Linked DNA regions of Homo sapiens. The protein of the gene in region 4 interacts with the protein of the main gene of each other region in a pairwise test. Each region holds a gene or a part of one and is shown on either strand. Other genes may lie near its edges. The genes, in order: AGGF1, RBM10, KRT75 and DHX15.

Region 1 (6,981 bases), on a different chromosome or scaffold from region 4:
AGAACTAGGCCCATATATAAAGATGGGAACCTGATGGAAGATGATGGTGGTACTACAAAGCAATGCAAAGGGGATGGTCTTGAGAAAACTAGGTCATGTCTGAATACCCCCAGCTGGAATAGAGAACAAATGTGAAAGTTCAAATTATAAGATCAATAGAAGAAAATATGACTTGGGGTAAGGAAAGTCTTCATGAAACCCTACACTGTAAAGCCAAATAAAATTTTAAAAAGTAAAATAAAATAAAGACTGATTTCATGACATACAAATTAAGAACTCCTGGCTAACAAAGAACACTGGACAAAGCTAACAAATATATGACAAACTGGGAGAAGATATCTGTAATATCTAAAACTGATAAAGAAGGAATACCTTGTTTATATAAAGAACTGCAAAATAACAAGAAAGAAATGGGCAAAAAGATATGGATAGGCAATTCACAGAAAGGAAAGGACATATAGCCATTTCAACATATATACATTTCAACAAATGTATGAGATTCTCTAGTAATCAGAGGAGTATCAATTAAAACAGCAAGGAAATAGCTCATTATATTCATAATGGCAAAAAGTACAAAAAATGGTTCATATCATTTATTGGAGAGGATGTGGGAAAAAAACATTACAAAACAAAATCAAATCGTGAAGGGTGTCAAGTAGAATGCTTTTTTAGGGCAGCGCCTCTGCCCACTATGCTAAGTACCTCTTAGATCTGAAAACTAGGTGTGGCAAAGACTGCTATTTACATACTCAACATGAATTTTGCCCTTCTTCCTTACTTGTAGAACCCCTATATTATTAGGAGAATAATGCGTCTAGCTTAGAAAAACACACATATACACATAATTCCCAGCCCCACTTGCAGCAAGGGGTGGCTATTGATAGGTAGACAGGAACCATTGAGTGGGGCTTTGGGAAAGTCCTTTCATCCCTTGCCATCTTGCACCATGGATCGACCTGGAGGCTCTGGAAACATGCTCCGAGAATAGCAGAGCAGAAAGACATACCGAGCCTGGGTCCCTGAAGAACTGTGGAGTCACTGGCCATGGACTGCCCCTCTCTAGGCTTCTGTAATGTAACAGGATAACACCCTAATTTGTTTAATAAGCCACTATAGACCACCTCTGATACTAGCACCTTAATGCAATTCCTGATATTCAAGGCTTTTTCTAAAAAAATGTCATTCTTTTCTAATGGTCAGAGGTAGGATACAGACTGGTATTACAAGGTAAAGATAACTTAGCCTTGAACAGATTAAGACAAATAAGAGGAGCACTGCTTCAAGTAGCAGTCAATAAGCTTATTTATTTTTTCTCCAGTTAATTACTAAAAACTGAAATATCATCTTAAAGATACCTTTCAAATGGTATTTATGGAATTTCTTATCCCCTAAAGAAAATAGGTGGAGAAAGTAGAAAATAGCATCTTTTTAAAAGGACTTCAATATGTTCATTAATGGAGTCATAATGCATCAAGGGAAGTCAGAAATTTTTTGCAATACATCTTTTTTTTTGCATCACAGGGGACATACCATGTCTTCTCACTAAACTTCCTTTGATGGCTTAAGGTTACTCTTGACATGACAATAAGGTAGAATCTCTATGTTTCCAGATACAGTGCCTTGTGAAGAACTCTTCAGGCCTAAGGAGGAATGTGTACAGGCCCTAGAGAGGGCAGGTCTCTGCTGGAAAGCTCACTGTTTATGAATAATCTAGTGGGCAGTGCACAAGACAAAAATACATACAGAGCCATATTTTAAAATTTAGATTTTATTATTATTTATGTATGGTGAGGCCAACAGATCAGGAGATGGTCTGCTATCAAAAAGACAGTTTATTATTCACCCAGCCCAAGAGGAGGATGCACACCAAGCCACACAAGGCAATGTGGAGAAGCACCAAGGTCCAAAGGAGGCAGAAGGAGTGGGAGGAAACATGGCAAAAAACATTATGTGATTTTTGCAGGAAGGAATGGACAAATCAGGATAAGCAGGTTTAGTTTGCATAATTTCAGTGGGATCTGAGATGTAGGAGTTGTTCCTAGTTGTCTGGTACTTTGCCCTGGAGTGATTAGGGCAGGGGAATATTGGCATGGAGTGTAACAGCCTGATAAAGAAGGTAGATGATCAGTGTGTGGCATGCTGGGTGAGTTGTTTGCTATGTCTAGGAATTAGCTAACCCTTGGAGGGGTTATCTCCCTGGTCAGGGAGACCCCAGATGCCAGAGCATCAAGAATACAAAAAATAAGAAAATATAGTTAATGGAAGTGGCCACTGATCTAAGACACCAAACAGGATTCTCTTGTTCAGCTGTGTTCAGCATTTACGGATACTGCTCTGCGACAGGCACTGTGCTGGGCCCTGAGAGAGGAGCATCTGCATGACACAGCTGCTGACCTCCACAAATCTCAGGCCCAGGACTCTGAGCTCATGATCTAATTCTAAATGACTTTGGCAAAGGAAGGAAGTGTGTTCCAAAGAAGGCCACATCAGTTTAAATATTGGCAAACCAATGCCAGGGTCATGCAGACAAAAGACCAAATAAATGCACCAAACCAGAGCATTTTTCTCCCCTTTTCCACAGAATATTGTCTCTCTCTTATTTTCCCACCAGGGATGCTCCTTTTTGCGACTCAGACCTAATGTACTTGCTCTATTTTCCCGGGGGGTCTAAACTCAGGAACCAGAAGAATGACTAAATGAGAAATAAAAGTAAAATTCTGAGCCCCTGAACTGACTGAATAGACCCATTGTTCACTACATAGAAAGCCAGTCATTGAGACAAGGAGTATTGCCAGGGAAGAAGGTTCTATTTGGGTGCTGCAGCCAAGGAGAATAGGAAATCAGTCTCAAATCCATCTCCTCAACCAACTAAAATTAGAGGTTTATATGGCAAGGGAGAAATGTGACTACATGTGAGAAAACAGGAATTAGTGAGCGGTAAGGATGAGGACTTGTTCAACAGGCAGCAGGTGGCTGGTTAGGCAATCATGATGGGTGAGGGGTATGGTGCCTCATTGTCCAGATGCAGTGATCTGGTAAGTTTCAATTCCTTGATACTATCTGGGAGGCCTCATGGTTGGTTTCCCAAGAAAGGAACTCAGATAAGAAAGATGTAACTTTCTGAAGTTTTAAGACTGGGAGGGTAAATTTCCAGGTTTATTCAAAAGAAACCATAAACATCAGTTCTATAGGACAGTTGGGCTGATTTCACACCAACCAGCATTCCTTCCTGATAAGAGACCACCAACCACAGAGAAGTTCTGGCCAATCTACCAGGGACTCACAGCGAGGGTTTTCATGTCCTCTGCTTTGCCATTTGACATCAGAGGGCTGAAAACTTCACACTGGGATCATGCTAACACCACCATTTTTTGAATATGGGTCCCATAGAGAGGCAGGAAGCTTAATTGTGCATGTGCATATTTCTCCTTTCATAAATATTCATGAATCCTCCTACAGCTCATTGAATATATTTGGCCACCCTGCTCAGCATAAATTTCTGTTCCCTTTGTCCTTCCTTCCAAGTGTCTGTTCTCAGCTTCTGACCAGAGGCTATGCTTCCAAGCCTGTCAGAAAGGCCACCCTGCAGGCTGTAACCCTTCATGAGAAATAAAGCCCTTTTCTAAATTTATTAACCTCCTCATTCTTCAGTTGACATAAGTAGAGCATCATAGTCCCCACAAATCATTTCTGGGATACTCTGTTCTTATTTGTAAAACAAGGAGATAGGAAATGCATGCTATACTAAAAGTTTGTTCAAAGAACATCCGCACGTGCAAATGTCTGAGACCAGAGGCTGCAAGCCTCCCTGTCGCTCTTAGGGCTTCGGTAGCCACATTGCCACAGCTCTCCACGCCCTCAGGTAACGCCCCTCCGCAGGCCGAGACGTCGGCACGTACACTGTCAGGTCTTCCCGCTTTCCGTCGCTTCCTGTTCCGTCTTGGTCCCGCCTGCCGCTGGCGCCGTTGTTTCCGGCTCAACTGGGGAGCTGCTGGAGCTCTTCTGGCCTCTGGTTTTCCGACTGCTTATCCGACGCTCCTCCCTCTGTCTCTGTAGCTGGAGAAGGTAGTTTCCAGGAAAGTTTTCCGGTTTGCAGGCCGCGCACATCGGGCAGGGGCCATCCTCGGTCCCCTTGCTCGTTGCTCGCAGCCCCGTTCGGCTACAAGTGAGTTTCAGGGCGTCATGGCCAGGGGCCACCGCGGCCAGCCGGGTGTGAGGCTGCCTTTCGCTGCCCGCGCGCTCCAGTGGTCTCTGGGTCCGCCGGCGTCCGTTTCGGCCTGAACGCAGCCCCTCCGCGGCGACGAGCAGTCTCGCGCCGGAGCTCATGGCCTCGGAGGCGCCGTCCCCGCCGCGGTCGCCGCCGCCGCCCACCTCCCCCGAGCCTGAGCTGGCCCAGCTAAGGCGGAAGGTGGAGAAGTTGGAACGTGAACTGCGGAGCTGCAAGCGGCAGGTGCGGGAGATCGAGAAGCTGCTGCATCACACAGAACGGCTGTACCAGAACGCAGAAAGCAACAACCAGGAGCTCCGCACGCAGGTGCGCGGTCCTCCTCAGCCCCGCGCCCCATCCAGCCCAGGCGAGGCCTTCGAAGCCCGTGATAGCCTCGGAAGGGGTCCCTGGCAGGGGCTCAGAACTACTGTAGAGTACTTAAAGTAAATAAGTAGAAGCTCAGCGCAGTTACAATTCCAAGTACCTTAGGAGCAAACCTGAGTTCAGGTTACTTGATTTAAATCAATGTCTCGCGGCTGGCGTGAATTGAACTTAAGTACTGTGGCTACATTGTCTTCATTCTCACTTGACCTAACATCCCATTGGCAGTAGGCGCATTTACTGTAGATCACATTTGAGTTTATTAAAATGCTGGACTTGAGTCAGAATCCCATCTCTGCTATTCACTGGGTGTGTGAACTTATATACCGAGTCTCAGTTCCCCATTAAATGAGAATGATAGCTCACAGTAGTAAAGGTGAAGTAAAACAAACAATTTTACAAACTTTTGAATGCTATACCTGTTTAAGGTTGCTCTTCTGGGCGTTTATCATCTTCGGCTTTCTTGTGTAAGTAGGGACGATATATAACTGCTTTTGTTGGAGACGTTAAGCAGCTTATTTCGTTTCCAAGATGGTAGGGGCAAATGTTAATACTTAAACTGTCACATTAAAAACAACCTTGGCTGGACGCGGTAGCTCACGCCTGTAATCCCAGCACTTTGGGAGGCCGAGGCGGGCAGATCACCAGGTCAGGAGTTCGAGAGCAGTCTGGCCAGCATGGTGAAATACAAAATTTAGCCGGGCGTCTCTACTAAATACAAAAATTAGCCGGGCGTGGCGGCGGGCACCTGGAATCGCAGCTAGTCGGGAGGCTGAGGCAGGAGAATTGCTTGAACCTAGGTGGTGGAGGTTGCAGTGAGCCGAGATCGTGCCACTGCACTCCAGCCAGGGCGACAGAGTGCAACTCTGTCTCAAAATAAAAACCAAAAAACCAAGAGCATAGTATTTTTTTCTACCTTGTTGGCAGGCCCTCTCTGCCAACAGATTATTTCCACATAGTAACTAGTTTCAATTTGACCGTTGTCTAGTCCTTCATAATTTATTGGTGGTTTCCTAAAACCAGTATATAGGCTGAACACTGAAACGTCATCAGACTTCTTTGTTTTGTTACCAAATGGACTATGAAAATAACTGTTGAGTTGCAATGACTTTGTATGACCATTACATGGAGTTCCTGACATGACATTATTGGAAAGTTTTTGTTTAGTCAATTTAAACACCTACGGTGTGTAATAACTATGCTAGGAAAATACAAATATGGTAAAAAAAAAAAAAAAAAAAAAACAGGGAGAGGTGGCTGGGCGCGGTGGCTCACGCCTGTAATCCTAGCACTTTGGGAGGCCGAGGCGGGCGAATCACGAGGTCAGAAGATCGAGACCATCCTGGCTAACACAGTAAAACCCTGTCTCTAGTAAAAATACAAAAAAAATTAGCCGAGCGTGGTGGCGGGCGCCTGTAGTCCCAGCTACAGGCTGAGGCAGGAGAATGGCGTGAACCCGGGAGGCGGAGCTTGCAGTGAGCCGAGATTGCGCCACTGCACTCCAGCCTGGGCGACAAAGCAAGACTCCGTCTCAAAAAAAAAAAAAAAAAAAAAAATGGGGAGACGGGAGCAAAATATAACAGCCTTTTTTACATGACAGCCTTTTGAAAAGCTCCTTTATAATTCTAAATTGTTGAAGTACTGCTTGCGTTAGAGATTCTAAAAGAAAACGTTTTTTGCTAATCTTCAGAGAGCCAGCATTTTGGTGTTACTGTTAATTTGATAAATCAGACTAAATGATGGGACTTTGTGAACAGATCCTTTATTTCTTACAGAAAAGAATGTTTTTATGCTAATATTTTGAGAGGTCAGCAATTCTCCCTAAAGAATTAGAAAATTTAAGAGCTATCAATTCCCATTCATGTTATCTAATATCATTCAATGTTCACGTGGATTTAGTTATTAAATGTTAATGCCTCTTATAAGCTTTAATACACTTTAAAAAAATAGTAGTTCTGTGACTAAACTGCAGCAGAAGCGAACAGAAGGTAATTGCCTGAGAGGATCATCTGTCCTCCACATGCCTCCATTTTAGTCCAATATTAAAAATTTAATCTCATAGAAAGTCTTGACTCTACTTTGAATAGTGATAACTCCTTACTCTCCTAGTCAGCCTCCCTTGGTTGGGGAGAGGGTGGATTCGATTAACTGTCATTCCAAATTACTGAATGTGTTTTATTTGGAGCAGTTAAAAAGTTTTGCTTGAGAATGATAACTGGAGAACCATAATATGTATAGGGTTTGTACAAGACCCCAAAATAGCCTTGTGCAAATTACTTTGTCTTGTCTGATATTTTATGTGTAAAATTGGGGTTAGGACAACGAATATTTCAGGTGGTTTTGTGAATTAATGAGATGTTATCTAAAGCATCAAGTATAGTGCCCAGCATGTA
Region 2 (7,026 bases), on a different chromosome or scaffold from region 4:
CCCCCTCCACCTTTTGAGTCTCCATTTAATGCCATCACTGAGTGGGTTCCAGATAAAAAGGGGGAGTTTGGCCCAATTTTCTCTTGCTCTCATGCATGCTCTCTTGCCCTTTGCCATGTTATGATGCGGCAAGAAGGCCCTCACCAGATGCCAACACCACTGGGCTTCCCTGCCTACAGAACTGTGAGCCAAATCAATCTCTTTTCCTTATAAATTACCCAGTCTGTGGTATTGTTATGGAGCAGCAAATGGATGAAGACACTCCTCTTCCCCTGACATACACCCACGCTGTCACATTTGTTGTGCATTTCCATTTTATCATTTAAAAATGCATAGGAATGTTTATTTGTGTATAACTTTATATGCATGACACAATGCCACATTCTATATTTCCATGTTCCCCCCAGCACAGCACCATTTTTAGAATTCATCAGGTTGCTAAGGTAACACTTAGTGCTTGCTTGTAAACGCTACGCTCACAGTGTCACACCCTTTCTCCACAGAGAGACACTGAGGTGCCCTCCATCTGCCCACTCCCACAAAACATTGCAGGGCTTTTTTCCTGCCCACCCCCTTATGGCCTGTGAGAATTTCTCTGGCATACATGTATATTCACCAGCAGAATGTGAGGGTCCCCACCATGGGACAGAAGACACCTGACAGGGCTCACTCGGATGGCACAAGCCACCTCCTGGAGTTGGGCAACCCTGCCACACACTGAGGAGACTGCTCTGGCTCAAGGCCATTCAGCAAAGAGCAGAGCTGGGGCAAGAGCATGGTCTGCTAAGCAGTCACTGCCCACATCCACACCTGCCCGCCATCTCCCTTGGCAGGAGAGGGCAAGAGCTGACAGAGTGCCGTTGCTGGAAGACACCACACAGCCAGCCAGTGACTGCTGGACCCTGGTGTTCACCTGTTGAGCTGTCTTGGTCTTGTGCTTCTCCTTCTTCTCTTTGCCCTCCTTCGAGGGTGCCCCTGTCTCCTTATGTCCGTCGGCCGACTGCTCCAGGGCGGGAACATAGGTCCGCCTCTCCCCATCCCAGTACAGGTACTGCTGGCTCTGAGCATTGTAGTAATACTGAGGGAGGAGGAGGGAAGAGGGGATGTGAGGGAAGACCTTGTGAAGGGAACCTGCAGGGCTAGCTGTTCCTGACGCGACCTGACCCGATCCCATCCCTCCCTGGGCTGCCCTATTACCTGGGAGTTGGGGTCATAGTAGAGGCCGGTCTGGGGGTCATAGTAGTAGCCGGAGGTCTCATCGTACTGGTAGGTAGAGACGTCGGGAACAGCTAGGGGGTGAGGGGAACGGGGTCACACTATTCCCTGCTTTATTAAGAACTCCCCACCCCTACCCACAGGCTGTGGCTACTCACGGTACTGGCTGTAGGATTCCTGGGCAGTGGGGCTGGTAGCCGGTGGGAGAGCAGAACTAGGATGGGTAGGGCTCTGGAGCTCAGATTTGAGCACAGCGGGTGACATGATGGTATACGACTGGTCATGGGGCCAGACAGGAGAACAGGGCTCAGTGTCTGCCCATGCCACCCCTGCCGCCTGCCTGCCTCCCCGGGATACATACCCACAGGGCTCACTCACCTGGCTGTTGGCAGCAGTGCCCTGGCTACTGCTCGCCTCGGCTGATTGTTGGTAGATGCCAGGAGCAGCACCAGGCTGGGCGCGAGAGAAAGCCTGCATCGACACAGAGTCGGCCCCAGGCTCTAGGGAGGCCTCGGGACCTGTAAGGAGGGACAGGGCAGGGACAATGCCTGTGAATAATGGGGCCGGGGACTTTATGCCTGCTGGCCCCCACCACAGCTGCAGAGAGAGATGCTGGGGCTCACCTGCTCCAGTGGGATCCCCTTTGGTTCCAGTGATGCCAGGGCCCTTGGTGCCCTTGAGGTAGCCATGGGCATAGAGGGAAGACTCTGTGCCCTGGCTGTTGCCATAGCCCTCATCCTGTTGGTAGTAGCTGTAGTCGACCGGCGGCTCCTCGGAGGTGGCCCAGGTACCCTCCCCACCTTGGGAGGCCTGAAGGGCAGGTGGGAGGGGTTCATTAGAACAGGAAGGTGTGGGGGTGGGGGGTGGGGAACCTGCTAGAAGCATCTGTCCCACACGTGGGGCTAGTATTTCTACCTGACAGACAAAGCATGCAGCCTTAAGACAAGTGGAAAGCGAGGGTTGCCTGGCCACAAGAGAACAAATAGGCCAGTGGCAAACACAAGACAGAAAAACAGATGAACGCCAAAATGTTCCAGGGCTGATTCTGCTGATTCTGCTGTGTGTGGCGTGTGTGTTGGGTGTCAGGCCAAGGAAGACACCATCTTCTTACTTCTTTATTCTCTTCTCCCAATTTTCTCTCAACCACTTATACGTTATTTTTATTCAGGAACATATGATACGTGTATATCATATATGTATATATTACATATAAGGATATGTGTATATCATACCTATTCAGGACAATAAAAACCCCACCAAACAGCACAGAATGCCAGGCACAATGGCGTCGTACATGAGCGCATGGGAGGCAATTGGGAAGAAAGCTGCGGTGATGATGAAGGGGAATGTCCCAGGGGGTCTAGAGAGCCAGGAGCAAGGTAGAATAGCCATGCCAGCTACTGGGAGAGGGTTTTGCATCCATGGATAGCAAGCCAGCCTTCCTGCTTCAGAGAGGGTGCAGGAGGGTTGAGAAAGCCCAGGTCTCAGGACGCTGGGAGGCACAAGGGGTCTGAGTACCTGTGAGATGGCCCACTGGGCCGCAGCAATGGCAGTGCTGGCCACAGAGGCAGCACTGATGCGACTGCCTTCATTGGAGGCCATGTCCCTGAGGAGGATGTTAGAGACTGGGAGTGAGATAGGAGGCCCCAAGCGGTAGGGGGGAGTGGGAGGGTGGGGAGGGGAAGGGTGGGAAGGCACACAGGTGGGGCCCTGACCTCTTAGAACCCTTGGCAAACTCAACATTGATGGTCTTGCCGTCGATAGTGAGTGGTGGGTGCAGGGCCTGCAGGATCTGCAGCAGCTGGGCTGCCTCCTGTGGGAGGAGGGGAGGCAGGGACAGAAGGGTCAGGCCCGGGGAGGCCCCCGGCTCCATTGCCCGATTTCCAGGCTGGCAGCCGCGGTGGGAGGCTGGGGAAAAGGACCCTCGTCTCCACCCCGGGGGCCGGGACCCTGGCTGCCCGGCCCCCAACTGTGCCGCCCTCACCACGATGGTGGAGAGCTGGATGAAGGCAAAGCCGCGGTTCAGTTGGGTCTGCTTGTCCTTTATGACGCGCACGTTGGAGGAGGACAGCACCGCGTAGGGTGCCAGGGCCCCCAGGATGGAATCCATGGTGCTGTGTGGGTTCAGGTTGCGCAAAATGATGGCTGTGGGAAGGGGCCCAATGTTAGAGGACACCCCTGGCACTCTTGCCAGCCCTGCCCTTCAATGCCCCCACTGCTCCCTTTCCTCTGCCCCCACTCACTCCGTGCCTTTGCAACTGCCGCTTCCCTCACTGCTTCCTCCAGGATCAACTCTGCTTGGCGGTCCAGGTGCCAGCCTGGCTGCCTGTCTGCTGAGAACCTTCCCGACACACCCCCAAAGTCAGGTGGGATGTTGCCACTCCCCCTGTTCTCCCTACATCAAATGTCTATCCCCGCACCAAGTGGAGATTCCATGAGGATGAGGTCCTGCTCACTGCCATTTCTCTGGTCTTGGTGAGCCCAGCCCGACACCCTAGGGCACAGAGGAAGAAGGAACAACTGACTCACTGTCATTGGCGTTCTCTGAGCTTGGCTCCGAGCCCTGTGACAGGGCTTGGGAGGCCAGGACTCCCTGGGCCTGGTAGGGCTGCGGCAGGGGAAGCAGGCCCTGGCTCAGCTCCCGGCCACCCAGTGGCAGTGTCTGCTGATCCAGCCTCGTGCCGAGGGGCAGCTTCTGCTCTGCCTCTGTCAGGGGCAGTGGGAGACAGGCTGGTGATAAGGGGAAGGCTCCACGACTGGTCACCCTCCTCCCTATACCAAGCCCTGAGCACAGACCCCTCACCCTTCCCTTCTCCCCAACCGCTCCGCCCTGGAGAGCACGAGAGGTAGGTGGGCCTCACCTGACTTGGGCACGCCACATTTGAAGCACTTCTCTCGGCGTTTGAAGTTCTGGACGCCACACTGTGAGGCACAGGCCAGGCCGTCAGAGGGAGCAGGGATTTCCCACTGCACCCTCCAAACTTGGATGAAGAGATCTCCCAGGGACCCCGCAGTGCCCCAGGAAGGAAAGCCCCTAGGCAATGGTGGCAGGTGCCTTCTGAACCTTCTGATGTTGTTCTCAGTACTGTGCATCTTCCCTTTCCAGACTCTCATTTGTCCTCTGTGCCAACCCACTCAGCTCAGGAATAAACAACTCCCCCATTTGGTACAACAACTCCCTCCTCTCCTTCCTCTGCCTTCTTAAGGCCACCAACTCCCAGGACTGTTCCCCGCCTCAGGTATTCAATCCCTTTATTAGGTTCCTCTCCCTGAAACTTGCTCCTCTATTCAGAAACCTTTCAGTGTTTCAGCCCTAGAAGTCAGTAGCCAGACCCGCACCCCTCCTCTTAGCTCTAGGACTGGGTTGGATCCTGCTACGCTTGAGAAATTTTCCTTGAATGTTCCAGCATCTGGAGACCCAGCTTCTACCACACTCCATCTCTGTTCCAGACTCAGGTACTAAGCACCACTCCTGGGCCAGGCCCTGCTGCACATGGCCAGAACATGGTCTCTGCCCTCATGGCCTAATAGCACAGGGGCAGATGCAGCATGAAGAGGGGCAGGTCGGTCTGCATGGACCATCCAGCAGGGGCTCGGGGAGGGAAATGGGCTGGGGGTGGGGTGCCATTTACTCGGCAGGGACAGTCCCTGCACAGAAGCAGGGAGGTTTGACCTGGGATGCCCAGAAGTTTCATTTTGTTAAGCCTTGCTGGGGAGGGATTGTTATCGGAGGGAACAATGGACTTTCCGAAACTGGTGTGGGAGAGTAAGGGGAGAAGCAAAAGCCAAGGCCGGGGAAGGAAGCCAGTTAGGTAATGGAGGATCTTATGCTTAAGCTGAGCTGGGGCTGGTTAAGCAGAGGAGGAGAGGCGTGGGTAGTCAGAGGTGGTTTTGAGGAATGTTCCAGGTGAGGGCGTGGGAGAAAGAGGACAAGAGGCCAGCATACCAGAGAGGGCTCCACAGTGAGTGGGTGAGAGCGTGACGATTGGCATGAGCAGCGGGAATGGCGAGGGAGGGAAGGTGGCGTTTCTGTGATGGAAGTGACAGGACCTGGTGGCCAACAGGATGCAGGGGAGGGGAAGGAGTTCAAGAGAATTCCCTGGTTTTGGGCTGGGCGTGGTGGCTCACGCCTGTAATCCCAGCACTTTGGGAGGCTGAGGCGTGAGGACTGCTTGAGCTCAGGAGTTCAAGACCAGCCTGGCAAACATGACGAAACCCTGTCTCTACCAAAAAAAATAAAAATAAAAAGGCAAAAATTAGTGGGTGTGGTGGCATGCGCCTGTGGTCCCAGCTACTCTGGAGGCTGATGGCTTGAGCGCTGGAGACAGAGGTTGCAGTGAGCCCAGATTGCTGCACTCCAGCCTGGGCGACAGAGCCAGATCCTGTCTCAAAAAAAAAAAAAAGAGAATTCCCTGGTTTTGAGGCTATCTGGAAACACAGGAAGGAGTTCCACTGTCACTTTGTCTTTATCTCTCCAGAAATGTTAAGCACCAATCCTCTGATGGGACTTTTTTTTTTAAAACAGATGCACCACTCTCCCTGACTAGGCAGAGTACTTCCTGGGGAGAGGGTTGGGGCCTCTACAAACTGTGGAATCACAATGCTGGCCCCAGGGCAGACCTGAAGCCACTGTGGCATCCAAGTCCCTGTGATCAGGAGCAAGGCACAGGGCACAGCTAAAGGTTCACCCATGGTTCCACCTCTCTGAGCCTCAGCTTCCCCTCAGGGAAGACAGAGGTGACTACAAAACCACAGCCTCCAGTTTCAGGTTTGACTTGGCCTGGTCAGAGTGGCCTTCAGGCTTGAGCTACCTGCTATGGGCTCTCAGAACGCTCTGTGCTTTTCTTTCATGATTACAGTTAACAATTCGACTGTGTTAAATGTGGGCCAGGCACTGTTCTGAGTGTTACTCTCTCATTAACACAGCTGAATCCTCCCAACCACCTTTTGGGAGAGGTGTCATTAATATTCACATTTTAGAGATGGGGAAAGTGAGGCAAAGAGAGGCTAAGCACCTTGGCCAAAATCAAGGCCGATCTGGGATAGTCTCATTTCAGCCAGTCTGGCTCTGAAGCCCACATTCTCCACACCACCACTTCAAGTCTACACTGTCACTAATTCATCATCCACGTATATATTTCCTTAAAGTCTACTGGAACTCCAGGCAAGACTGCATTTTAGGAGGACAGAGCCTGCACCAAGTGAACGCTCACTACACATTTGTATATGGCTGGCTAGGAATGGTGACTACTCAAGCTGAGCTAGCAAGGGATAGAGAATGAGAGAGAGAGAGAGAGAGAGAGAGAGAGACAGAGGGAGAGGAGAGATTGGGGGAGGGGGAGAGATGGAGGGAGAAAGAGCGGGAGAGGAAGGGAGAGATCGCCGCCACTGCTGTTGCTGTCTCTGTCCATGACAACTGCTGCCCACCGCCCCTGTACCTTATTGCACAGCCAGTCCTCATTGATCTTGGGCTTGGGGTCACTGTAGTGCATCGACACCTTCTGGCCCAGGATGTTGAGGGAGTGCTGCGGGAAAAAGCAGAGCACAGTGAGGTCCAGGCAGCAGTGCCCCACGCACCGTTTCAGCATAGGAGAAGAGAGTGAGCGAGCCCTTCAGCTGGATGGATGAGGGACAGGGAACGGAGGGAGGTCGGAGAGCGGATGGAGGGAAGAAGGGAGGTAGGGAGGGAAAGCGCCACAGCTCTCGGGCGCAGCTGTTTGCTGCTCTGCCGGGCACACGCACGCACACATGTGAACACACACCACCAGGCACACAGTGTTCGGCTGACCGACGCTTGCCGGACAGTGGGGA
Region 3 (7,033 bases), on a different chromosome or scaffold from region 4:
TGACAAGGCTCCAAGTGGTTCTCCCTGGTCCCCCTACCACCCAAGCCCCAGCTTGAAGTATCCAAGCAAGATGCTGGGCAGAGGCACTGAATGAATGAATGGCACAATGCATCATCCTTTTCTTTCCAGGCTCCAGACCTAGGAGAGACAGAAATACTTGCAGACTCTTACTGCATCAAAGACTGAGTGGATGAAGTTGATCTCCTCGGGCAGAGATTTGACCTTGGCTTCCAGCTCCACCTTGTTCATATAGGCAGCATCTACGTCCTGGAATGACAGCGCAGGATGCTCCTTTGAGTCTGCAGCCCCAAGTATCTAGTCCAAAAGAAGCTGAGCAGATTTCTCCCCAGCCCATCTAGTTTGGATTTTAGAAAACTCTGGGTCTGGGTGATTTGGGGTTGGGGATGGGTAATTACGGAGAACTGGGGGCTTGAATTCCCTGAGCTCACAGAAACCCAAGTAGGGCTAATGGGGCCATCAACGTAGAGGGAACATGTTGGGAGGTTTGAACTCTGCAGATATTCTCAAGGTTGATGTGACATTTCTTGGGTGGCCCAAGGGTCAGAGGTCAGGTTACCCCACACTCCAGATTCCATTTTAAACCTTCTCCTTTGAGAGAAACATCCCCACTCACCTTTTTCAGGGCTACAAATTCATTCTCAGCAGCTGTGCGCTTGTTAATTTCATCTTCGTACCTATAAGGACAGAGCGGGGGGTGTGCTGTTGAGCAAGTCTGCATTGAACTCTTTCCAGGCTGGTGTAGCAAGAGTTAAGAGCCCTCAAATCATTTCCAGCTCTTCTGCTGACCTGGGCATGACTTTGGGTGATTCATTTAACCTCTATTTCTCCCTCCATAAAAGGGGGATAATTTCTTCTGCTAGTTTTTAATAAACTTTTCTAAGAGTAGAAGGTGAGCATGGAACTTAAAGGAATACAAAAATATACTTATGCAACTCCATCTTTTGATAGATATGCAATGCTAATCTAAAATGTTTTTCCACCTCAAGTGTCTACCGAAATCGTGGAGTAAACTTTATCTGTTCAGCAGGCTGTTTCGGGTAGATTTTGATATATTTTCACTGAACCTCAGGGTGGCCCCTGAGAAATATGCTTTTTGTAACTAGGGGTAGCTCAAGCTTAGAAATAAGGGCAAGCTGGCTAATGGGTTAGTCTGGACCAAATCCCTTTCCACTGGATACCTCACCTACTGCAGCCTGGATGATGTGCAGTCAAAAGTTTCCCCCCACAAGAAAAGTCAGATTGCCCTCCTTTAAACTCTTCCTTGTTACCTCTCTTCACTCTACAGTGAATGCCATCCTGGAAATGCAAACCATCTCAATAATTGAGCCCATGTCCAATGGAATTAAACAATATGCTGACTGTGAAATTACATTATGATTTCTAGAGTGAGTAGCAATATTTTGTCGGATGATGTTGATATCCCTTTGCAGTCATGTGAACAAATAGGAATAGGATCTTCATAGCAATACACAAGATGAAGGTCCTTGTGCTACCCCACACAGTGCTGTCTCCACCTTGCAGGATAAAGGCTGCAGTTCCAAAGCTCCCGGCTGATATCGGCATTTGCTCCTTTGCACCTCTCTGGTCCTCACACAAAGGAGCCTTCAGATGGCTGTGTGTGGCCAGAAGCCAGTCTCCCACTTACCTGACTTTGAAATCTTCCACAACATCCTGCATGTTCCTCAGTTCAGCTTCAAGCCTGCCCCTCTCGGTGGTGATGCTTTCCAGCTGCCGTCGGAGCTCACTGGTATAGGAATCAAAGAGGGGCTCTAGGTTCTGCCTCACAGTCCTGGAGCCCTGCTCCTGCAGGAGGGCCCACTTGGTCTCCAGGACCTTGTTCTGCTGCTCCAAGAACCTCACCTGGAGGGAAGAAGAGAGAATGAAACCTTGAGAAGTTGGAGAGGCAGAGTTAGACACTCCTATTAATAAGGGAGAGAAGAAAAAGATATTTTTTTCACTTGGCACCCATTGACAATAATGTAACTGACAACTCCAACCCAAAAGGAGGCAGTCCATGGAGCTACCGCAAAGTTCCCTAGGGCTTGCATAGGATTCGGGTGGTGGGGCCTAGAGGCTTCTGTTGGGGAGCTGCTCTTGGGTTAAGTTTCTCAACACCACCTACTCTGGGTTAGGGTAGTTTGCTGAGCAGCAACTCTCCTGTAGAGAATCAACAAAACTCTTCCCTTGGTGTTGACTGAACCAGCCCATGTGGCTCCGAAAGAGAGGAAATTTCTACCAGGTCCTGTGGGGCAAGCTGGCCTGACTTGGAAGGGTCTCAGCCCCTGGGAGCCCGTGCTGAACAGTGCTCATTCCCACAGTGGGGTCATTGCATTATTGCTCTCCCCCCATGGGATGGCCCTTCCAAGAGTTTATTTGATCCCAAACCCAAGGGGGTGGATGAAGCCCCTGCTTACCTTGTCGATGAAGGAGGCGAACTTATTGTTGAGGGTCTTGATCTGCTCGCGCTCCTCGGCCCGCACCCGCTGGATGGTGGGGTCGATTTGCAGGTGAAGAGGAGTCAGGAGACTCTGGTTGACAGTGACCTCTTGGATGCCTCCAGGGGGACACACGGGGAAGCTGGGGCCACTGAAGCCTCCTCCAACTCCACCCCCATAGCCAAATCCACTGTTGACTCCAAACCTGTTGCTGGCCCTGCCACCAAAGCCACTTCGGCAGCTGCTGCCACACCCATTGATGGAGACCCGCTTGGCACCCCCCAGGTTGTAGAGGCTGCGGCTTCCAAAGCTGGCCCCAGCACTGCTGATCCTTCCCAGGCCCCCACTCCCTGCTGCAGAGCGGGCCACAGAGACAGAGCTGAAGCGGGAGCGGCCAGCTGCCGGGGTGATGGCCGAGGTGGTGCTGAAGCCCCTGCGGCTGCCAGACTGGAAGGTGATGGAGGACTGCCGAGACATGGTGGGTGAGGAAGGCCGGCGAGAAGGCACCTGAGGTGGGCTGGTACAGGCAGTGGAGAAGACAGGTGGCTGGAGAGCCCTGGTCTCGTGGCTTTTATGAGCATCCTGTGGGGGCGGGGCACTGCTAGTGGAGAGGGCCTTCTGATGGCATTCCCTGGGCATCCGCCAACCCTGAGCTCACACTCGGCATCCCTCGGGAAATGGTGTAAGGGCCACTGGCTGGTTCCCTGGCACCCCCTCCCCACAACGTGCAAACTCCTTTCCAGTTGCAACTTGATCAGCATATGAGTAAGAAGCAAGTTAATTGCTTTCCGTCATGTGCTAATGATGCATCTTGTAAAGGACTCAGCAAACACTGCCTCATTTCTAAACCGCTTTCTTAGGCCTGGGACCAACTCCGTCCTGTCCAAACATCTTGTGTTAATACAAGCCACTACACTTCACTGTTTCCTTGGGGTGCTTCCTATTCCCTAAGCATTTTCTCAGCACCTACTGCCTGGTTCCCCAAGCCCCATCAAGCTGTCTTTCCAAACCTTGAAGGTCGCGCTCTGTAATCATCTTCCTTAGGAATCCACCCCATTTTGATTGCCCCTTTATTCTGCTCTTAAGCTTCCGTGTCTATTGTGTAGGTCACACATGGTTTTCTGGAGTGTATGTGTGCCTGTGCCCTGCCCACTGCAATATAATGTGACTCTCAAGGCCAGCCAGTGCTCTGTCTCCTGGGAAGAGAGGTTGTGAGAGGAGAAAGACTCGGGTTTGAATCTCAGACCTGCTCATAGTTGTGGGACCTTGAGCAAGCCATGAAACTTTTCTGTGCCTCAACTTTCATGTCTGTAAAATGGGGTTTGTAATGAATATTCACATGTGAAAACTTTCGCAATGCCCGGTATATGTAAGTGCTGAGTAAATGTCTATTGAGGCTCCCCTCTTTCTGATACAATCAAGTAATATTAAGGAAGTGCCAACCATGTCCATCCTGTGACTAGTCCTGTGGGAATTCAAAAGAAACACAATGCACATTATTTATCTTCAACAAGCTCATGGTCCTGTTGGGAAGATAAAACTGTACAAGATGGTGTACCATGAATCATCACCTCCAAGCTGCATTTGAGGCTGCCTATCCCAGAAGTCTCCCAGGCAGTTTCCTCCTCCTCCTGAGGACCAAGAATTCCTAGCTCTCCAGTCCTTCATCAAAAGAGCTCCAACAGCTGCACCTAGCAGAGGATTCGTTCCTTCCCTGTTTCTCCTGTTAACCTTGTAGACTGTGCCCTACATTCTATATTAGTCTACAAACCGCAAAGAAGACTTCAAGGCACCTCATCTCTCTGTTCTGCAACTCATTGCCCCATCTCTACCATGGGAAGAGTCAAACCAAAACATTGCTGAATCTTCTTTTTTTTTCTGCCTTGAGACAGGGTCTCACTCTGTCACCCAGGCTGGAGTGCAGCAGCTCAATCTCGGCTCACTGCAACCGCCACCTCCTGGGCTCAGGTGATCATCCCACCTCAGCTTCCTGAGTAGCTGGGACTACAGGCATGCTCCACCATGCCTCTCTAATTTTTTTACTATTTTGTAAAAACTGGGTGTCGACATTTTGCTCAGGCTAGTCTTGAACTCTTGAGCTCAAGTCATCCATCCTCTTTGGCCTCCCAAAGTACTGAGATTACGGGCTTAAGCCACCGCGCCTGGCCTGAATCTTCTTTTATCTTGCTGCCTGCTTTCTTCTTGCTGTGGTTTTGAAGCCTGGGAGAGTAAGAGAGGAATTAATCAGCATTCAGTCTCCATTTCGTGGATGAGGGCATTGAGCCCAGAATGGTTAACTAGTCAGACAGACCCACAAGAAGCAGAGCCAGATTCCATGGTCTTTCCACACAGGTGTCCTTTTAGGGGCACACTGGTAACCGACCATTTGGCAGATGTTCTCACCTGCCTGGAATGGCAGCTTGGCACTTGGAGCGGTAGTTCTTTGTTCTCTAAACTGTTTCCTCCTTGGGACTGAGGCCCGGGGGTAAGCCTCTCCCCCATCTAGAGATTATTTGGGAGTCTCAGTTTCCACAGGAAAGATATGAATCATAGCTTGTGTTGATACAGGCCAGGAAGAGCAGAGGAGTTCCTTCACCTGGTTCCGTTGCCAACCCCAGCCAGGGTGGTGCATGGTTCTCAAGTGGAAAGAATAATTATGTTTGTTTTCTGTACTCTTCATTGCATGATAATCTGGCCCCCAGAAGAAAGGACACTTGTTTCCTGAGCCATACTGAGCAAACGCTTGCAGAGCTTTCCACAAAACAAAGGTCTTGGAGGGTCCAGGCGTGGTGAGTGGCTGGGCCAGCATGCCCACGGGAAGGGAGGTCCCCAGCCTTCTCTCACCATGCTTCCCACGTGGGAAGCAGGCTCCAGGCTGCCTTCCCTCCCAGCCATTCCTTTCTTTCCCATGTCCCCTGCTGGAGCCCTCTTCCCAGGCACTTCATCTCATTCTGTTTCCATTCTGGTTTTTCTCAGCCATCACCTCTTGCCTGGGGCTGCTCATTTATTCTTTTCCTCCTTCCCCTCTAGTTTTTCCAGGACTGTTGTTTCTGAAGCTAGACGGTCTTACTCACAGGCTTTGCCGAGTTAGATTGAAATAGAAAGATCGTTCACCTCCCTTCCTCCTCCACTCCCTCTTCTGTGACCTTTGACCTGCACAGTGACCTTTATCCTGGTGGTCAATATCTAGAAGAGTGCCTGGGACACCTGGCTTCCCTGACAACTTGTGTCACCACCCTTTTAAAAATCTCAAAACTCAAGGATTGTTAACAACTTCTTCGCTTTCTGACATTTTTGTTTTGTTTTTAACCTCTTTGTAATTCTGCTTACAACTTATCCCTAAGAAGTCATCGAAGGTGAACTGGGCCCAGCACTACCCCTTAACGCTGTTTGCCTGGAATGCCTGTGTCTGGCATGCCCTTTGATGTCTTCGTTTTCTGGTGGTACGAGTGTTGGTCCACTTCTGAGGGTTGGGCGTTTTCCTCCCAGCTCTGACTAGCCTCCTAGCCACCCCAGATAGAATTGTGGCAGAAGTCTGTGTGATTCAGGCTGTCTAATTTAAAGAAGAACTACACATTCCTTTCTGTTCTCCAGTCTTTCTGCAGCCCTCTCCATCTCTGTGTTATTGGGTCTATCTGAGAGGAGTTTTCTTGAGTTTGGAGAAGTGCTGGATTCAGGGGCCATGGTTTGTGCTCTGGTGCGTGAGGCTGGGAGAGGAAAACTCTTCAATTTCCCTGTTCTCCGCCCATCCTGCTCAGGGTGATCTCTGTTATCCTGGGAGGAACACTAACGTCCTTCGCAGGTGGTGGATCCCAGGACATGGGGCCAGGTGGCGATCAGGGCTGTGGAGGAGGAGAGGAAGTGGGTGGGGGATGCCTCTTCCACAGATGAGGAGTGGGGAATGCCCCAGGGAGCTTTGGCTTCCAGCCAGGCCAGGGCCAGGGCGGGGCCACCAGGGCTAAAGACCATGGGGCAGCAGGGGTTACCTCCCTAGAGCAGGCTGGCCTGAATCATAGAACCAGGGGCCTGGGCGCAGCATCTGAGGACTTAGGCCACAGCCACCTGCCCCCGATTCCTCGACTGCTAGACTTCCCAGACTTCTCCTACTCTCTGTGGAGTCCTGGCTTTAGTGAGTAACTATTTATTAGCATCTATAATATGCCAGGCACTCGCTGTTCTAGCACAGGAGATACAGCAGTGAAGAAAGCAGCCACAACTCCCTTCCCTCCTGGAGTTTATATGGAAAGAGGAGGGGAGCAGAGGTGATTTGGAGGGGCAGACACAATCCGGGTCTCCCAGCTGACACTCCCAGGGGCCGAGTGTGGAGAAGGTAATTCTGTTGTGGACACTCCAGGGGCCGAGTGTGGAGAAGGTAATTCTGTTGTGGACACTCCAGGGGCCGAGTGTGGAGAAGGTAATTCTGTTGTGGACACTCCAGGGGCCGAGTGTGGAGAAGGTAATTCTGTTGTGATGGCACCTGAGACATGCTGGCCAGAAATGCTTTGCCGTCTTCACTATTTGTGCTGGGGTGGCCGCACTTCCTCAATGTTTGGTGTGTCTAATAGGCACTGCCCAGC
Region 4 (7,026 bases):
ATGTTTCTTTTACCAAGTTTTTCTACCATTGTAAAAGAATACCATTATCAGATTAGATTTTAAGCCTAAAATTATACATTACTATTTCTATTTACTTGATATGAAGTTTGAAATTCATGTTTGTTCGGGTGCCATTGGAGTACATATATAGAAAAGGCTCAACTTAATGTATAGCTTTCAGTTTGTCACAGGCACACTTAATAGAGCTAAGTACTAGAGCAAAGTTCTTCCTGTACTTGCAGTAAAAAACAAAAAACAAAAAAACCACAAAGATAGCAGTGATGGACCTTTAACCAAAGAATTCAGTTACAACTGTGCTCAAACTTACTGCAATTTTTATTAGCACTCAAGAGAGCCAATGCTTTACTTATCTTTTGTGCACAATGACTTACTTTACTTTTGTAAGCACTATGTCATTACGAAGCTATTTACAAGGTATTTAGAAAACAAAATTAATTCCTTAAAACCATCTATAAAATCCACTATCATACTAAAAATTAAAAAACAAAAACAAAAGTGAAGTCCACCCAAACTTTGAAGAGCTGGGCTTTTTTTTGTTCCTTTCCCTCTATTACCTGACAACATAGCAGTAATAGATAGGACCTCATTAGAACAGTTGTAGTCACAACTTGCAATAACCATTTTTGCGAGCTGTGGATCTAGAGGAAACTCTGCCATCATGGATCCCAATTCAGTCAGATCTCCATCATCATTTAAAGCAGCCAGGTAATTCAAAAGTTCCAGGGCTCTCATCAGAGTTTCAGGAGCTAGTGGTAAAAGACAATCTATTAGACACGGTGCCTTAAGCAAGCAAAAATGTGACAAAGTACAAACTATTATAAGCAATCTCATTTTTCATTTTGCAGTGGACCAAACTCAAACTCAAACTGTCATCCAATTCAATTATACAGATCTAGCAAACAATGAATCATAAAAACATTGCAAAATTTTCCTGTAGGCAAAACTGTCTTCTTCCGAAATACATTAAATAATTGCTAATTCATCAATGTGTTTATCAAACTGTTTTTCCCCAAAGAAAACTTAGGAATTCTCACATTTTCATGCCCAGAGGATAATTCAATTTACCCAAACCCCCCCATAATAACTTTTGAAGAAAAAAAAAAAATGTGCTCATATAACTGTCACCTTTTTTAGTTTTAATGCTATCATGTAAGACTTAATCTTGATGCATACTGGATGGAAAAAGCAAAATGTATTTAATACATATATTAAATAGGATGGAGAAAAACACTAAGAGTCAATTTTGGTTAAAAGATCTGATAAAAATGTGTTTTGATAAGTCATACCTGGTGGATCCATAAAATCAAAATGTACCAAGTCATCAATACCAAGTTTCTTCAATTGTAACACAACTGATCCTAAATTAGAACGCAAAATCTCAGGATAGGTGTTATCCTAGCAAAGAACAAAAACATTTATTGGTTATGTTAAAAATGCCTCAGTCTCCTCGTTCCAGAAAACAAAAATCTGCTGCCTCCTGAGCTATTTGTTTTGGCATTACTTCTACACTGTCTCAGTAGAGATAAATACTTGTAGGCTAGACTAGAGAGAAACCATTTTTCTCCAACTATCTTTATAGTATTCAGTGTTTGCTACTGTCCATAAAACTCGCAACTGCAGAAAGAAATTCGTATAGTAGTCTTCACTCATCTGAACTCGCAATTTCCATGGTTTCAGTTAAGCAGTGTCAACAGAAAAAATTTTAAAGATTCCAGAAAAAATTCATCAAGTTTAAATTGTGCACCATTCTTAGTAGTATGCTATATACACTATACACCCATTTGTCACTTAGCAACCATCTGTTATTAGATCAACTTTTGCAGTATCACAGTGCTTGTGCTCAAGTAACCTTTTACTTAATAATGGCCCCAAAGCGCCAAGAATATTGATGCTGGCAATTTGGATATGCCAATGAGAGGCCCTGAAGTGCTTCCTTTAAGTGAAACGCTGAAAGTTAGTAAGGAAAGAAAAAAAGTTGAAACCTAGTAACAAAAGAGCAAAAAAATCACATCTAAAGAAAGAATGCATCTTCTATCAGTGAAATTGTAAAGAAAGATATTTATACATAGTATATGTAAGTAAGGTTCAGCATATTCCAGTTTTTAGGCGTGGGAGGGGGAGGGTCTTGGAATGTATCAGCCTGGAATAAGGGGGTGTACGACTATCTAAGTTAATTACACCATACATTTCACTCCTGGAAAAGCTAAGGAGCTTTTAATCCTAAAAGGCAAGATTAAGTAAATAAGGCAATGTTCTTCTGGTAAGATAATTCAACCTAACATTTTAAACATATCGGCAGGAAACGACAATACCCCATACCTGCATTTCTGTTTTATAAGCTTTCTCTGTGTAAAGTCTGAAGCATTTTCCAGGTCTGGTACGTCCAGCTCGACCAGCCCTTTGCTGAGCTGAAGCTTTACTAATAGCTGTCACCAAAAGGGACTCAACTCTGATTCGAGGATTGTAGACCTATTGGAATTGAAATAACACAAGAGTCTTTCTTCAGTCAAACACAAAATTGTGATGCAACAGAAGTATCCAAAGCCCACAGTTAATTCCAAAATAAATAAAGAAATATCGATAGCCATAAATCATGCTGCTACAATAGACAACCCACCATCCTGAACCTTAAAGTTCTTTCAGACATTCTAATTCGATCATCTGAAAGACTCTAACATGAAAAACTTCTTGTCAAACACACAGCTTATATAATCCTTACTCCTCCTAATTTCAGTTCTATCAGGCTGACCTTGTTCCTTGCTTTTTATATGCTGGGCAGTCAAGGATTCTGCCCGAAAAGAAACCTTCACTTTCAAAACTCGACGGTCTGAGTACTATTACTCTGTTACTGTTTAATGAAAAAATTTCCATCAATAACAAAATGTAATCAATTTATCCAAAAGATATTTGAAAAATAAAACGTATTTATTGAATAGCCACTTCACCTGCATTTCACTTCATTTAGTATACAGCACTGTTAAACTAGAGGAGTAACATAGTACTGTTTTCAAATAGTGTGCCTAGTTGACAGCAGTAACTCTAATAATGTTGGGAGAAGTGACTGAACTGCAGGGATAGAAATCCTGTACTTTATTACTAAACCCATACTGTTAAATGAATATACAAGCCAAAACACCCACCGTCACTACACTGAAACAAAGAAAGCAAAGCAACTCTAAAAGAAAAAAAAGCCTAGAATTACATATTAAATACTGTCTTAATTTCTGAGAGCCAGCCAAAACATAAAGGGTTCATACAGCAGAAATTTGCAAATAAAAAAAAAGATAGGAAAATAATTCTGAAAGGTAAATTTTAGCCATTAAATGAATTGGTTGTAAGTACTGTTAAACCAACTCTAATTTATAAAGTATCCACTAAATATGTACCTTCTGTTTCGCAAATCCAGGATCAATCACAAACACCACACCATCTATTGTCAAAGACGTCTCTGCTATGTTAGTTGACACAACTACCTGTTAAGAAATAGAGTATATAAATTATATTACATATCAAATAAAATTAACAGGACTGTTAAAGATCAGCCACTAACTTTCACTGACACAAGGAATTTCAAGCCAGCAAATAAACTAGAAATATCATTTGATCTTCAATGGCCAATGCTTTAAAAAGGTAAATTAATATTTAAGGAACCAAAATTTTGTTTACACCACAACAGCAACTTCTTTCTCAACAAAGCTATTACTTCAGGTTATCACTCAACCGCATTACATTTTGCTTAATCAAATTAATGGACAGCATAAAAAGAAAAATACTGATGAAGCAATATAACGTGCCTTACAAAACGTCTGATAAAACAGCCCTTATAATTAGTATTCAAATTTCCACAAGTGTATATTTCAATGTTTTTGGGCAATATTTACAAATGAAAACTTCGTTATTTATATCACCAAAATTCAACTCAACATTTTAAACAAAATGCCACATGGAAAAAAACTCAAGTTATAATCCAGTAAGAATGGACAGATCAGCAGAATCAAATGTAAATATTTCGGTAAGTGCATGGTCTCAACGGGATGACATGTAATACGTTACTACATACAAAGCAACTGTTAAGAACTATAATTCTTTATTGACGGAAAATGTTTAAAGCATTTACATACTAATATGATAGCTTGTTTGGTATACGTGCATGTTTTACTATATATTACATATGTTTTAGAAAATTAGTTAAGGACTTGGGAAATACATGTTACATATAATTTTTTTTTAAACAATGGGAAATGGGGATTCCTCATTAGTATTTTAACTCAGGACATGATTTTCAGGAACAGGTTACTGATATTAAGTTGAAGATGTCTGTATATGCAAGCAATTGATACAGAAGATGAATCAAACAGAGTCTGCTTTTACCATTTGTAAGGGATGATTAGACATGGATAGAAAGTGTGAGTGGCACCAAAGACACACTGTGAAATTTAAAAAGGTTTACTTCCATAGCAAAGTCAAGAAAAGCTTTACTGAAAAATAATAGCATTTAGGACAGTCCTTGACGGTAAGGTTAAGACCTACTCATGAGAGAAGGAAACAGCACTAGCACTAAAGTTCCATCTTAAAAAAACACATGTGGGAGAAATGCCTATGGGCACATACAAAAAATGAAAAGATTTATATTTATCCCTATTTTATTTTAAAAACACTTAATTTTATAAATCAAATAGCTTTAAAAATCATAGGCTTTTGCTGCATTAACTATTTTACTTAATATTAACACTTTCATTTTCTGATTTCATATTTACTAAGTAGTAGACTTCCCAAAATACTAACAGGAAACCTCAGGGATTTAAAAACATAATAGCAATCTACCAAGAGGGTATTTCAGAATAATTTACAAGTCAAAAACCAAAATGTTTCCTTTTGTCAGTTGAAAAGACTGACAACTAGCAAAGGAATAAGAAACCACATGTGGTTTGATGATGTTGCTGAAATACATTCTTCAGGACATTTAGAAAAATAATCAGCAACTAGAACTGAAGCAAACAACGACATACATAAGGTTAACAGGTGAAACTTGAATAAGCATAACCGGCATTTAATATTCTAGAAAGTCAGTTTCTTGTAGTTAAAGAAGCGATGAATTTAGAGGTAACTGGCAGACCTAGCAATCAAACCTGAGTGGCTAAAGTAACTGGAAAGGTTTTAACACCCCCAAGCTTGTATTCCTTTTATAACTTGCATATTACTTAGTCTACATAACACAGGGTTGTAGGGAATAAATTATGTAAGGATGTGGAAATGCTCTATAAACTATACAGAATAGGCCAGGCATGGTGGCTCACATCCGTAATCCCAGCACTTAAAAAGGCCAAGGAGGATTATTTGAGTCCAGGAGTTTGAGACAAGCCTGGACAACATAGTAAAACCCCACCTCTACAAAAAAATAAAAGAAATTAGCCAGGCATGGTGGCACATGCTTGTAGTCCCAGCTACCGAGGAGGCTAAGGTGGGAGGACTGCTTGAGTCCAGGAGGTTCAGGTTGCAGTGAGCTATGATCATGGCACAGAACTCCACCCTAGGCAACAGACTGAGACCCTATCTCAAATCTATACAGAACCAACTACATGCCTGTAAATACAGAAGACGTCTTCTGGCTTTCTGGAATTCTGGGGTGAAAACCATAGTTCTGAAAATATTTATGAAGAAAATCACTTTTAAAAAAGTTGTTCTGGGAAAAAATACATTTCACATATTTCTTCTATAACATAATACAATGTGATAAAAATTTCTCATGTGACCAACTCTTTAGTTACCATTATAAAAAGTTAATTTTTCTCCACAAAATAATTTCATCCTGTGTGTATGTTTTTTGTCTGGGTGAGTGTATTAAATTCTGTAATACTTAACAATTCGCGGATACATGATTCTGCAAGTGTTTAAGAATCAAATGATTTATGCCAACTTGGCAAACCCTCGTCATTATTGATATTAGTAAGAGCCTATTGCCAGCCAAAAGTCAAACCCTAAAATACAAGTGTTAAATTGAGTCCTTAACAAAAAAGCACAAGTTTTAGGCCTTTCTCAAGGACTAAAAATAGCTAAGGCTAAATACACACACACACAATGCAAAAGCGAACTAATAAATGACAAGATAAAAGCTTCTTTGGTACTTCAGCAGTTGAGTGAGGCAAGCCCTAACCATGTTCTAATTGTAAATGGCACACCATACAACCAGGAACCCATCAGGAGACAAAATGACCTTGAATTTGTCAAGGGATTTACATTATGACCAGTAAGAATCAATATAATTGTTACATGCTTTCTAGACTGCAACACTGCAGTAAGCGTTCAAAGAGCCTTAAAAAGTGTTCAAACCGCATTGACTAATATGGAACAGACCCTATGGTGAAAAGCTTGGCATCACTGTCAGGACATGCTAAGAGTAAATTTTCCTCCCTCAATAACCTGCCTTCTAATAGAACTCACTTTTTTTCTAATAGAACCACTTCCCCCCACTCCGCCCCCAATAACTCCACTTCAAAGTAGAACTCGCAGTACTTCATTTGCCCTACCTGAATACTGTCTGGACACAATAATGCATTTAAACTAATTTGGACTTTTAGTCCCCAGGGAACTCTGTGGTGGTCTCCAACACAAGGACATCAACTTATTTGCTTATAAACATCCCAGCAGCACCACAGTAAGCTATCTTCAGATCCTGGATCATTAAGTCTTTCTTTAAAACTACAGGACCATCTCCACAAGGGCCATTTCTCTTTTTCACTGAGCAATGTATGCTCTGAACCATATTAATCAGCGAAATGTAGGATCAACTATAGAAAAGTCAGCTATTTGTATGAACAAAATTAATGAACACTAAATATTTAAAAAATAATTATAGTTGTATTTTAATAACAACCAAATCCACAAAATAGCAATTTTAAGTCTCAGTCAAAAAATGCAGAAGTTATCTACTGAAGAGTAAACTTGAATGCATGTAAAGAATTACTGTAACTTTTAACTTAGTCAAATACTTGAATAAACTTCAAA

Evidence for each region.
Region 1: the proteins of DHX15 (region 4) and AGGF1 interact in binary tests that used the Homo sapiens proteins (3 or more experiments, as listed by UniProt).
Region 2: the proteins of DHX15 (region 4) and RBM10 interact in binary tests that used the Homo sapiens proteins (3 or more experiments, as listed by UniProt).
Region 3: the proteins of DHX15 (region 4) and KRT75 interact in binary tests that used the Homo sapiens proteins (3 or more experiments, as listed by UniProt).

The regions. Positions count from the first base shown.
Region 1 is NC_000005.10:77,026,443-77,033,423, forward strand, and holds the start of AGGF1 (angiogenic factor with G patch and FHA domains 1), read left to right. Parts: upstream 1-3,961; 5' UTR 3,962-4,324; coding exon 4,325-4,534; intron 4,535-6,981. UniProt on the Homo sapiens protein: Promotes angiogenesis and the proliferation of endothelial cells. Able to bind to endothelial cells and promote cell proliferation, suggesting that it may act in an autocrine fashion.
Region 2 is NC_000023.11:47,176,214-47,183,239, reverse strand, and holds part of RBM10 (RNA-binding protein 10), read right to left. Parts: intron 6,741-7,026; coding exon 6,654-6,740; intron 4,138-6,653; coding exon 4,077-4,137; intron 3,922-4,076; coding exon 3,745-3,921; intron 3,695-3,744; exon of another isoform or gene 3,459-3,694; intron 3,361-3,458; coding exon 3,200-3,360; intron 3,029-3,199; coding exon 2,931-3,028; intron 2,822-2,930; coding exon 2,734-2,821; intron 2,026-2,733; coding exon 1,839-2,025; intron 1,734-1,838; coding exon 1,594-1,733; intron 1,492-1,593; coding exon 1,374-1,491; intron 1,290-1,373; coding exon 1,198-1,289; intron 1,079-1,197; coding exon 914-1,078; intron 1-913. UniProt on the Homo sapiens protein: Binds to ssRNA containing the consensus sequence 5'-AGGUAA-3'. May be involved in post-transcriptional processing, most probably in mRNA splicing. Binds to RNA homopolymers, with a preference for poly(G) and poly(U) and little for poly(A).
Region 3 is NC_000012.12:52,431,372-52,438,404, forward strand, and holds the start of KRT75 (keratin, type II cytoskeletal 75), read right to left. Parts: upstream 3,001-7,033; 5' UTR 2,934-3,000; coding exon 2,436-2,933; intron 1,882-2,435; coding exon 1,667-1,881; intron 696-1,666; coding exon 635-695; intron 268-634; coding exon 172-267; intron 1-171.
Region 4 is NC_000004.12:24,539,533-24,546,558, forward strand, and holds part of DHX15 (ATP-dependent RNA helicase DHX15), read right to left. Parts: intron 3,495-7,026; coding exon 3,408-3,494; intron 2,491-3,407; coding exon 2,341-2,490; intron 1,417-2,340; coding exon 1,308-1,416; intron 768-1,307; coding exon 576-767; intron 1-575.